2 separate regions of the Homo sapiens genome follow, and region 1 is linked to region 2. Evidence: fine-mapped expression QTL. A gene starts in region 2. The other region holds a variant in brackets. All regions are shown on one strand. Distances are between the middles of the regions. Region 1 overlaps TGM1 (transglutaminase 1). Region 2 holds the start of CHMP4A (charged multivesicular body protein 4A).

The links. PIP is the estimated chance that this variant, and not a neighbour inherited with it, causes the effect. A credible set is the group of variants that fine-mapping cannot tell apart.
Region 1: its variant is the best candidate, but not a certain one, in a credible set for the expression of CHMP4A in hypothalamus (GTEx, PIP 0.51).

Annotation. Positions count from the first base shown.
Region 1 is chr14:24,246,914-24,251,277 of GRCh38, reverse strand. It overlaps TGM1 (transglutaminase 1), which reads left to right. Exons shown (of 15, transcript NM_000359.3): 15 at 1,737-2,164. The coding sequence ends at 1,965. Among named protein-coding and RNA genes, the nearest start is that of TINF2, 6.5 kb to the right of the region's middle. RefSeq lists enhancers at 1,409-1,558, 4,156-4,355. The variant C/T (reference allele first, on the strand shown) is at 1,969.
Region 2 is chr14:24,211,015-24,215,385 of GRCh38, reverse strand. CHMP4A (charged multivesicular body protein 4A) reads left to right here and starts at 1,898. Exons shown (of 6, transcript NM_014169.5): 1 at 1,898-1,977; 2 at 3,557-3,706; 3 at 3,794-3,971. The coding sequence starts at 1,947. NEDD8-MDP1 (NEDD8-MDP1 readthrough) reads left to right here. Exons shown (of 7, transcript NM_001199823.3): 5 at 787-894; 6 at 991-1,076; 7 at 1,235-1,443. The coding sequence ends at 1,362. MDP1 (magnesium dependent phosphatase 1) reads left to right here. Exons shown (of 6, transcript NM_138476.4): 4 at 787-894; 5 at 991-1,076; 6 at 1,235-1,443. The coding sequence ends at 1,362. RefSeq lists enhancers at 1-594, 1,749-2,043, 1,680-2,179, 1,607-2,415, 2,370-2,489.

The DNA of each region.
Region 1 (4,364 bases), 36 kb before region 2:
TGCAAATTTGTAAGCAGTCAGGACATAGCCTAGCCATTAAGTTATAGACTTAATTTATAGACTTCCTATCATACTACGTTCTATTATATATCCCTGCCTCCCTCCTTCAGAGAGCTCAGAAACACCTTCAAGATAATCAGATCCCACTCCTCCTTTTACTTTCACTTCCATTTTATGACCCAGAAAGTGAGGAACAGAGAAGTTAAATAGCTTCTCATAAGCCTCACAGCTAACAAGTGGTAGAAAAGGGAGTAGAGTGGTCCAGGGAAACCCCTCAGAACCAGGTTCCAAGCCAAATGCTTTGCCCTGAAAAAAACTCATCCTTGGAGTTAGGGATGTTGGCTCATTCTCTTAGAGGACAATAGTTAATGCACAGGTTCTATGTCTGGAAAGGGTCCCCAGCGGCAGGCTTGGGTTGAATAGGGCACCAGAGGTAAGGTTTAGGCAAAGGCAGGAAGGACAAATTCCCACAGGCACGAGCAAATGCAATATAAATGCAGTCATGTTCAGTGTATAAAATGAAACGTGCAGATTGCTGGAGGAGCTCAGAGAAGGGTGAGTTTCCTTTTCCTAGAGGCAGGAGGTGCTCAGGGGAGCCGTCACTGAGGAAGTGGTGTGCCAGGCCTTGGAGGAAAAGTAGGCCTTCACAAGGACACCCAGGGTGGGGAGGCAGAGCTGGGTGCTCATTCCACACAAGGCAAAGACTGCAAAGCATGACTGTGGAGGTGAGTCTGGGGAAGAAGGCATTCGGTAGGGCTGCTCAGCAGGAGGAATGATGGGGGGTGATGAGGCTGTGCAAGTAGCAGGGACTGGGTCAGAGTGAGCCTGTGTGTCAAGTTAGAGAGCCAGGATCGTGTGCCACAAGCACCAAAGGAGCACTAAATCCTTGAAGGATTTAGTTCACCTCTGAGTGGTTAGCAGAACAGAATACAAAAGTGGGATGCGAGGCAAGGAGTCCCGTTAGAGGACTAGTGAAATCATGATTCCCAGGGGAGGTCTGGGAATCAATTTTTCAGAGGCCCATGTGGAAAGGAGAAAATGAAAACACTGGTTGTGTGTGTGTGTGTGTGTTTGTCCACCCACCTCTCTGTCTCTCTCACACACACACACACACACACACACACACACAGAGACATAAGGGTTTATGTCCATTTAAAGATGTCTGTTGTCTGTTCTTGGGAAGGATTTTCCTTTTTTTTCAAAGATAACATCCTTCTAATGTTTTGGTGTGTGAAAATGCTCTTTTCTCTTTGGAACGACGATCATAGCAGAGAGTGATTACTTTTCTTCAACCTATGCTCTTGTCAAAACTGAAAGTATTTGAAAATATTGTGTTGGGCCCCCAAAGTCTCATTTTGAAGTTTTCTTGGTTTTGGAAACCCCAGGTGAGATGAGGATGTTCTGTCTGGGGCAGGAGCAGTGGTGATGGAGGGGATGGCATGAGAGGCCTCTGCGGTGGCATCAGCAGTCTTTGTCCAGGTGGATGTGGGAGCAGGGAGGGAGGAGTCCCAGACGATGGGGAGAGTTCCAGCACAGGCAGCTGGTGGGTGGCTGCTGAGCTGGCTATGCAGAGGCGCCCTGGGGATCCTGGTCTTGGGTGTGGAAATTTCAGGTAAGCCTGGAATTGTCTGAATGGGTCCACCTCCTGCTTCTTCCTCCTGACTGCCCTGGATCAGCTCTTACTCCCCACTCCACCCCCAATTACTCCAGGCCCATGACCTTGTCTCTGCCCACAGGGACATTGGAGGCAATGAAACAGTGACACTGCGCCAGTCGTTTGTGCCTGTGCGACCAGGCCCCCGCCAGCTCATTGCCAGCTTGGACAGCCCACAGCTCTCCCAGGTGCACGGTGTCATCCAGGTGGATGTGGCCCCAGCCCCTGGGGATGGGGGCTTCTTCTCAGACGCTGGAGGTGACAGTCACTTAGGAGAGACCATCCCTATGGCATCTCGAGGTGGAGCTTAGCCC[C/T]GTGCCAGGAGCAATGGGACTGGAGTCAGATGAGCAAGGACATTGCCCCAAGATAGGGGCACACTACAGAGCAGCTCCCCAGGAGCTCAGGTGGGGAGTCCAGGGCTCCCGGAGGGGGAGTCCAGGGCTCCCGGAGAGGGAGTCAGTCTTCACTTGCACTGGGGGAACAGATGCTAATAAACTGTTTTTTAATGAAGCTGCTGCTCTGTCCATCTTTCAGTCCATGCCACACCAAGACGGATGGAGCCATGGTTTGTCCCAGGGCTGCACATGGCCTTCCTGTATCATCCACTGATAGGGGCTGGTGTCCCTCACCAGAGAGAGGGAACCACAAGGGAAGTTGAGGCTCAGAGAGACAGAGTCGATACTCTTTGTATAACTCTCTTCTACCTGGAAATTTTCCTGTGGGTGAGTTTTGGAGGATTTTGGCTTTGGTTTGAATGAAACTGTTCCCTTACCTCAGGGTTTTTCAAGTGTAGTCTCTAGACCACTTCTATTACAATCACTGAAATGTTTATTAATAATCCAGATAGATGGGCCCTACCATAGACTTCATGTGTCAGAATCCCCGTGGAAGAGGCCCAGAACAAACTCACCAAGAGTTTGACTCCTGTGCACACTGAAGATCAAGAACGATGCCCTTTCATTTTTCTTCTCAGCTGTTCTTTTTTCTGCATTCCCACTGCCTGCATTCTTCTTGGGCTAGCAGTAGCCATGAGATCATGTACCTGATATTCTGGTCCTGAACGCATGTCTTCTTGAACCTTTAAGTTTAGAAGGCTTTCAAGACAAAGGGCTCATGGGGCAGGAAAAAGAGAGCTAAAATTGAGCTGTTCCTACTAGCTGTAAACACATGAACAAGGTGCACACCTTGAGGCATCAGTAGTGTAACATGCACAAGAAGAAACAAGCCCTTCCCTTAAGGTGCTCCTGTCCAGTGGGGGTGACAGACATGCAAACATTCTAAATACAGTAAATGCGTATGTCACACTTACCAGGAACCAGGCTCCAAGCACTTTATGAATTCATTTAATCCTTACAATAACCTTATGAGATAGGTTCTGCATGGTAGTAGAGGGATGTTCAGGATGCTGAGGGGCCCAGAGAACTGTGATTCTGCCTGGGCTGATACAGAAAGTCTTCATGAAGGTGATTACCAGATGACCCATGAAAGATGAGAAAAAGTCAAGTCCAAGAGGCAAAGGACAGAGGAATCACCCAACACGTGTAAAGCACAGACATGTGAGACAACACAGTATGTTTGGAAAATGCAGACAGCTGGATGAGGACTGGCATATGGGTGCATGATGAGTACAAAGTGGCAAAGGATGTGCATGAAGAGGTAAGCTTGGGCCAGTTCATTAAAAATCCTTTTGCCATATTTAGGAGTTTGGACTTTCTTCTGAAAGTAAGGGGGAGCTTTCAATTAGGGATGATATGATCAAGTTTTGCATTTCACATGATTCATAATGAAAGCAACATAGAAAAGAAATTAGAGGGGTTGGGCTGGAGGTAGGAAGATAGAGTCCTCTTGGGATGAGAGATAGGAGAACCTGAATTAGGGTAGAAGCAGTACGAATGAAAAAAAAAGGGTGGGTTTGAACGTTGTATAGGAAATAGAACTGATTAGACTTGATAACAGATTCAATTTGGAGAGGAGGGAGGGCAGAGATAAGGGTGGTGGCCTGAGTTTCTGACTCATGGGTGCCACGAAGAGAGGTGCCATGCACAGAAATTCGAAGCTCAGGAGGAAGACCATATTATAAAAGGGAAGGTAGACCAGGCACGGTGGTTCACGCCTATAATCCCAGCACTTTGGGAGGCCAAGGCAGGTGGATCACAAGGTCAGGAGTTCGAGAGCAGCCTGGCCAATATGGTGAAACCCAGTCTCTACTAAAAATACAAAAAAAAAAAAAAAATAGCCACGCATGGTGGCACATGCCTGTAATCCCAGCTACTCGAGAGGCTGAGACAGGAGAATTGCTTGAACCCGGGAGGTGGAGGTTGCACTCCAGCCTGGGCGACAGAGTGAGACTCCATCTAAAAAAAAAAAATGAAGATAACGACCTCTGGTTTTTAGTCTGGCCTGTAACAAGCTTAGGAGTCCTCACTCCTGTCCTCACAAAGAAAAATGCTGAACAAACTGAAAGTCAGCAACTCTTGTTGGATCTATCAGAGAATTGAGGGCACAGGGCAAACTGCTGCCCCTAAAACTGGAGAGACAAAAAGGCAGATACAGAGAATCACAACTTAACAGCAGAAGCCCAGAAACAGAAACAGAAACAGAAACTTCTGGGGAGCCAGTACCAGGGTAGGAAAACTTAAAGTGTAATTGACTCATAGCTGGAGGCTTAGGGTGGACAAATTTGAGAGCTAAAAAATCTATAGTGGCCAGG
Region 2 (4,371 bases):
GCAGGCGGGCGCGGTGGCTCACGTCTGTAATCCCAGCACTTTGGGAGGCCGAGGCGGGTGGATCACGAGATCGGGAGTTCAAGACCAGCCTGATCAACATGGTGAAACCCCGTCTCTACTAAAAATACAAAAATTAGCAGGGCGTGGTGGCACGCACCTGTAATCCTAGCTACTCGGGAGGCTGAGGCAGGAGAATCGCTTGAACCCGGGAGGCGGAGGTTGCAGTGAGCTGAGATGGAGCCACTGCACTTCAGCCTGGGTGACAGAGTGAGACAATGTCTCAAAAAAAAAAAAAAAAAAAAAAGTGGGGCCAGACACAGTGACTCACACCTGTAATCTTAGCATTTTGGGAGGCCTAGGTGGGAGGATCACTTGAGCCCAGGAATTTGAGACCAGCCTAGGCAATAGAGGGAGACCCTATCTCTACCAAAAAAAAAAAAAAAATTGTAGTGGCGTGCACCTGTAGTCCCAGCTACTTGGGAGGCTGAGGTGGGAGGATCACTTGAGCCCAGGAGGTCGTGACCACAGTGAGCCGTGATTGGGTCGCTGCACTCCAGTCTGGGCAACAGAGCTAGACCCTGTCTCAAAACAAAAGCTAAAACATTGGCCCAGCACCAATTGTGTCAAATAGGAAGGCAATGGAGTTAAACAGAGGCTGAGGATGCCTGTCCATCCCGGAAAAACAGCAAGTTGATTTCCCTGGTTATACTTACTAACTTTGCTTAATAAGTTAACGTAGCCCTGGCCCTTCACTTTGCTAATCCCATCTTTTACACCGTTTTGCAGGACAAGTGAGATAGAAGGGGCCAACCAGCTACTGGAGCTCTTTGACCTCTTCAGGTACTTTGTTCATCGGGAAATCTATCCAGGCAGCAAGATCACACACTTTGAGAGGTATGCGGAGATAAGGGAGGAGCAGGGTGAGAAAGTATCAGAGAGGCCTGGGAAACCAAGATACTAGCTTGGTTACTCCTGCCCTGTCTTGAATAGGTTGCAGCAGAAGACTGGAATTCCTTTCTCCCAGATGATCTTCTTTGATGATGAGAGGCGGAATATTGTAGACGTCAGCAAACTGGGTACTGAGTGATGAGGAACAGCCATTTGGGGTCCCTAGGAGGGATTAGGTAGATACATACAGGTTGGATAGTTTGCCCTATAGGTGGCACTCACAAAGGTCAGAGTAATAATGGAGAACCCTGAAAGCTTAATGAAATGTGACTTCTTATCTTTCTAGGTGTTACCTGCATTCACATCCAGAATGGAATGAATCTTCAAACTCTAAGTCAAGGGTTAGAGACATTTGCGAAGGCCCAAACTGGGCCTTTGAGGTCCAGCCTTGAGGAGAGCCCATTTGAGGCCTAAACTGAAAGGAAATCAAGAAGGCATTTTCAGGTGCATTTGTAATTTATTAAAGTTCATCTGTGTGTGACAGAAGAGATTTTACCCACAGTGTGGGGAGTTTCTATTTTTCTAGCCTGTGAAATGGGGTTGGTTGTCCTGAGGTGCAGAGACCAGAATGTGAGACATTAGACTGCATCAGGTTTGCCATCTAAACTTAGGGCAACCCCAAGTGCTTGAACCTATACCACCCCACTTTCCTGAGCTCTGTAAAGAGCATGAAGTTTTCCCACTGACCCCATACACTGAGGTGCCATCACACTGCACATTTCCTTCCGGAGAACAAGCACGTACTCAGGTGGAGATAGAACTGTCTTTTTACTTAATAGAAAATGATGTGGCAGCTTTAAGAGGAGCGCGTCGGTCTGGGGCTGGTGGCTTGGGTCACGTGACACCGGTGGTCTCGTTTGCGCCTCTTGATGTCGCGGCGGCGCCCTGAGGACGGATTGGGCAAGGCTGGTCCCTGTGTGATGAGACATCACCCTCCCAGGAGCAAGGCGGAAGTCTGGAGGACGCTGAGGGGCGGAGGCGGGAGAGGCGAGCTCGCGATGAGTGGTCTCGGCAGGCTCTTCGGGAAGGGTGAGCCAGGGTGGGACTGGCCAGCCAGGAGGCGCTGGCTGGTGCAGGGGAAGAGGAGACCCCGGCGAGATTCGGCCGGACCGCTGCGCCGGGCAGGGGAAGAGAATCAGGAGACAGGCTGACTGGAAAACCCCGGCGGCCGATGGCGGAGCAAGGCTCATCGCCGGTGCCAAAAGGCACACCATGTCGGGGCGCCTTGTTCCCGTCCGCCGTCCTCCCCCACTCTCAGAGGGAAGAACTCAAGATCTGGGAGGGGACTTGAGTTGAGGGCGTGGCGATCGTGCTGACTCCCACTGTTCAGGCTTGAAGACGAGTTTCCTGCTGTCTTCAGCCATTTTCAAAACCTTGTTCTATAATACTTTGTGCTGGGCAAGAGGGATCTAAGGTGAAGAAGAAAGACTGCCTTCTTAGCCCGGCGCGGGGGCTCACGCCTGTACTCGCAACACTTTGGGAGGCCGACGTGGGTGGATCATGAGGTCAGGAGTTTGAGATCAGCCTGGCCAATATGGTGAAACCCCGTCTCTACTAAAAATATAAAAATTGGCCGGGCGCGGTGGCTCACGCCTGTAATCCCAGCACTTTGGGAGGCCGAGGTGGGTGGATCACCTGAGGTCAAGAGTTCGAGACCAGCCTGGACAACATGGTGAAACCTTGTCTCTACTAAAAATACAAAAAAAAAAAAAAAATTAGCTGGTTGTGGTGGCACGCGCCTGTAGTCCCAGCTACTGGGGGAGGCTGAGACAGGTGAATCGCTTGAACCCAGGAGGCGGAGGTTGTAGTGAGCCAAGATTGCACCAATGCACTCCAGCCTTGGTGACAGAGGGAGACTCCATTCTCAAAAAAAAAAAAAAAAATTAGGTGGGCATGATGGTGTGTGCCTGTAGTCCCAGCTACTCAGGGAGGCTGAGGCAGGAGAATCACTTGAACCCGGGAGACGGAGGTTGCAATGAGCTGAGATCATGCCACTGCACTCTGGCCTGGGCAACAGAGCGAGACTCTGTCTCAAAAAAAGAAGTCCTGGCGCGGTGGCTCATGCCTGTAATCAAAACACTTTGGGAGGCCGAGGCGGGCAGATCACCTGAGGTTGGGAGTTCGACACCAGCCTGACCAACATGGAGAAAGCCTGTCTGTACTAAAAACACAAAAAATTAGCCAGGCATGGTGGCACATGCCTGTGATCCCAGCTATTTGGGAGGCTGAGGCAGGAGAATTGCTTGAACCCAGGAGGCGGAGGTTGAGGTGAGCTGAGATCACGCCATTGCGTTCCAGCCTGGGCAACAAGACTGAAACTCTGCCTAAAGAAAAAAAAAGAAAGGCAGCTAGGAATAGTAAAAAGAATATTGGTTTTAGAACTCATACTGCCACATCTTGATTCCTGCACAATCTCTTATTAGTTGTGATTTTTAACATCTTTGTGGTTGTTTTCACATTTTTAAAGTGAAGAGATAGCACGTTCATTGTAGAGATTTGGGGATTAGCAATAACACAGTCAGGTCTCTAGCACATACTATGTATTCAATGATTGGTGGCTAATATTTTTCCTTCACAAAATTTGGGCCTACTCCACTGGACTCCTCAGGGAAGAAGGAGAAAGGGCCAACCCCTGAAGAAGCAATACAGAAACTGAAGGAGACAGAGAAGATACTGATCAAGAAACAGGAATTTTTGGAGCAGAAGATTCAACAGGAGCTACAAACAGCCAAGAAGTATGGGACCAAGAATAAGAGAGGTAATGAGGGAAACAAGCCTATGGGGAGGGCCCAGATGGGAAGCAGGTGCTTCTGACTCTTGATGTTCAGGGTATGGGCTGGGTCAGCTGCCCTACAGGCTTTGCGGAGGAAGAAAAGATTCGAACAGCAGCTGGCACAAACTGACGGGACATTATCCACCCTGGAGTTTCAGCGTGAGGCCATTGAGAATGCCACTACCAATGCAGAAGTCCTTCGTACCATGGAGCTTGCTGCCCAAAGCATGAAGAAGGCCTACCAGGACATGTGGGTACGGGGGGAGGGGTGGAGGGGACCCAGGCACTGGGAAGAGTGGCTTGCTATCACACTTTAAACTTTAAAGCCTCTCAGAATGTGAATTTGCAGTATAGATACTTGTGATGGCTAGACATCCATCTGCCCCTTGCTTCCTATAAAATTCTTTCGCTGCCTGGGGCATTCTAGGGAGGAAAGATGCCTTCTCTAATTCTTTTTTTGTTTTGTTTTGTTTTGTTTTTTGAGATGGAGTCTTGCTCTGTCGCCCAGGCTGGAGTGCAGTGGCACAATCTCGGCTCACTGCAACCTCCGCCTCCTGGGTTCAAGTGATTCTCCTGCCTCAGCCTCCTGAGTAGCTGGGATTACAGGTGTGCACTACTGTGCCCAGCTCATTTTTGTATTTTTAGTAGAG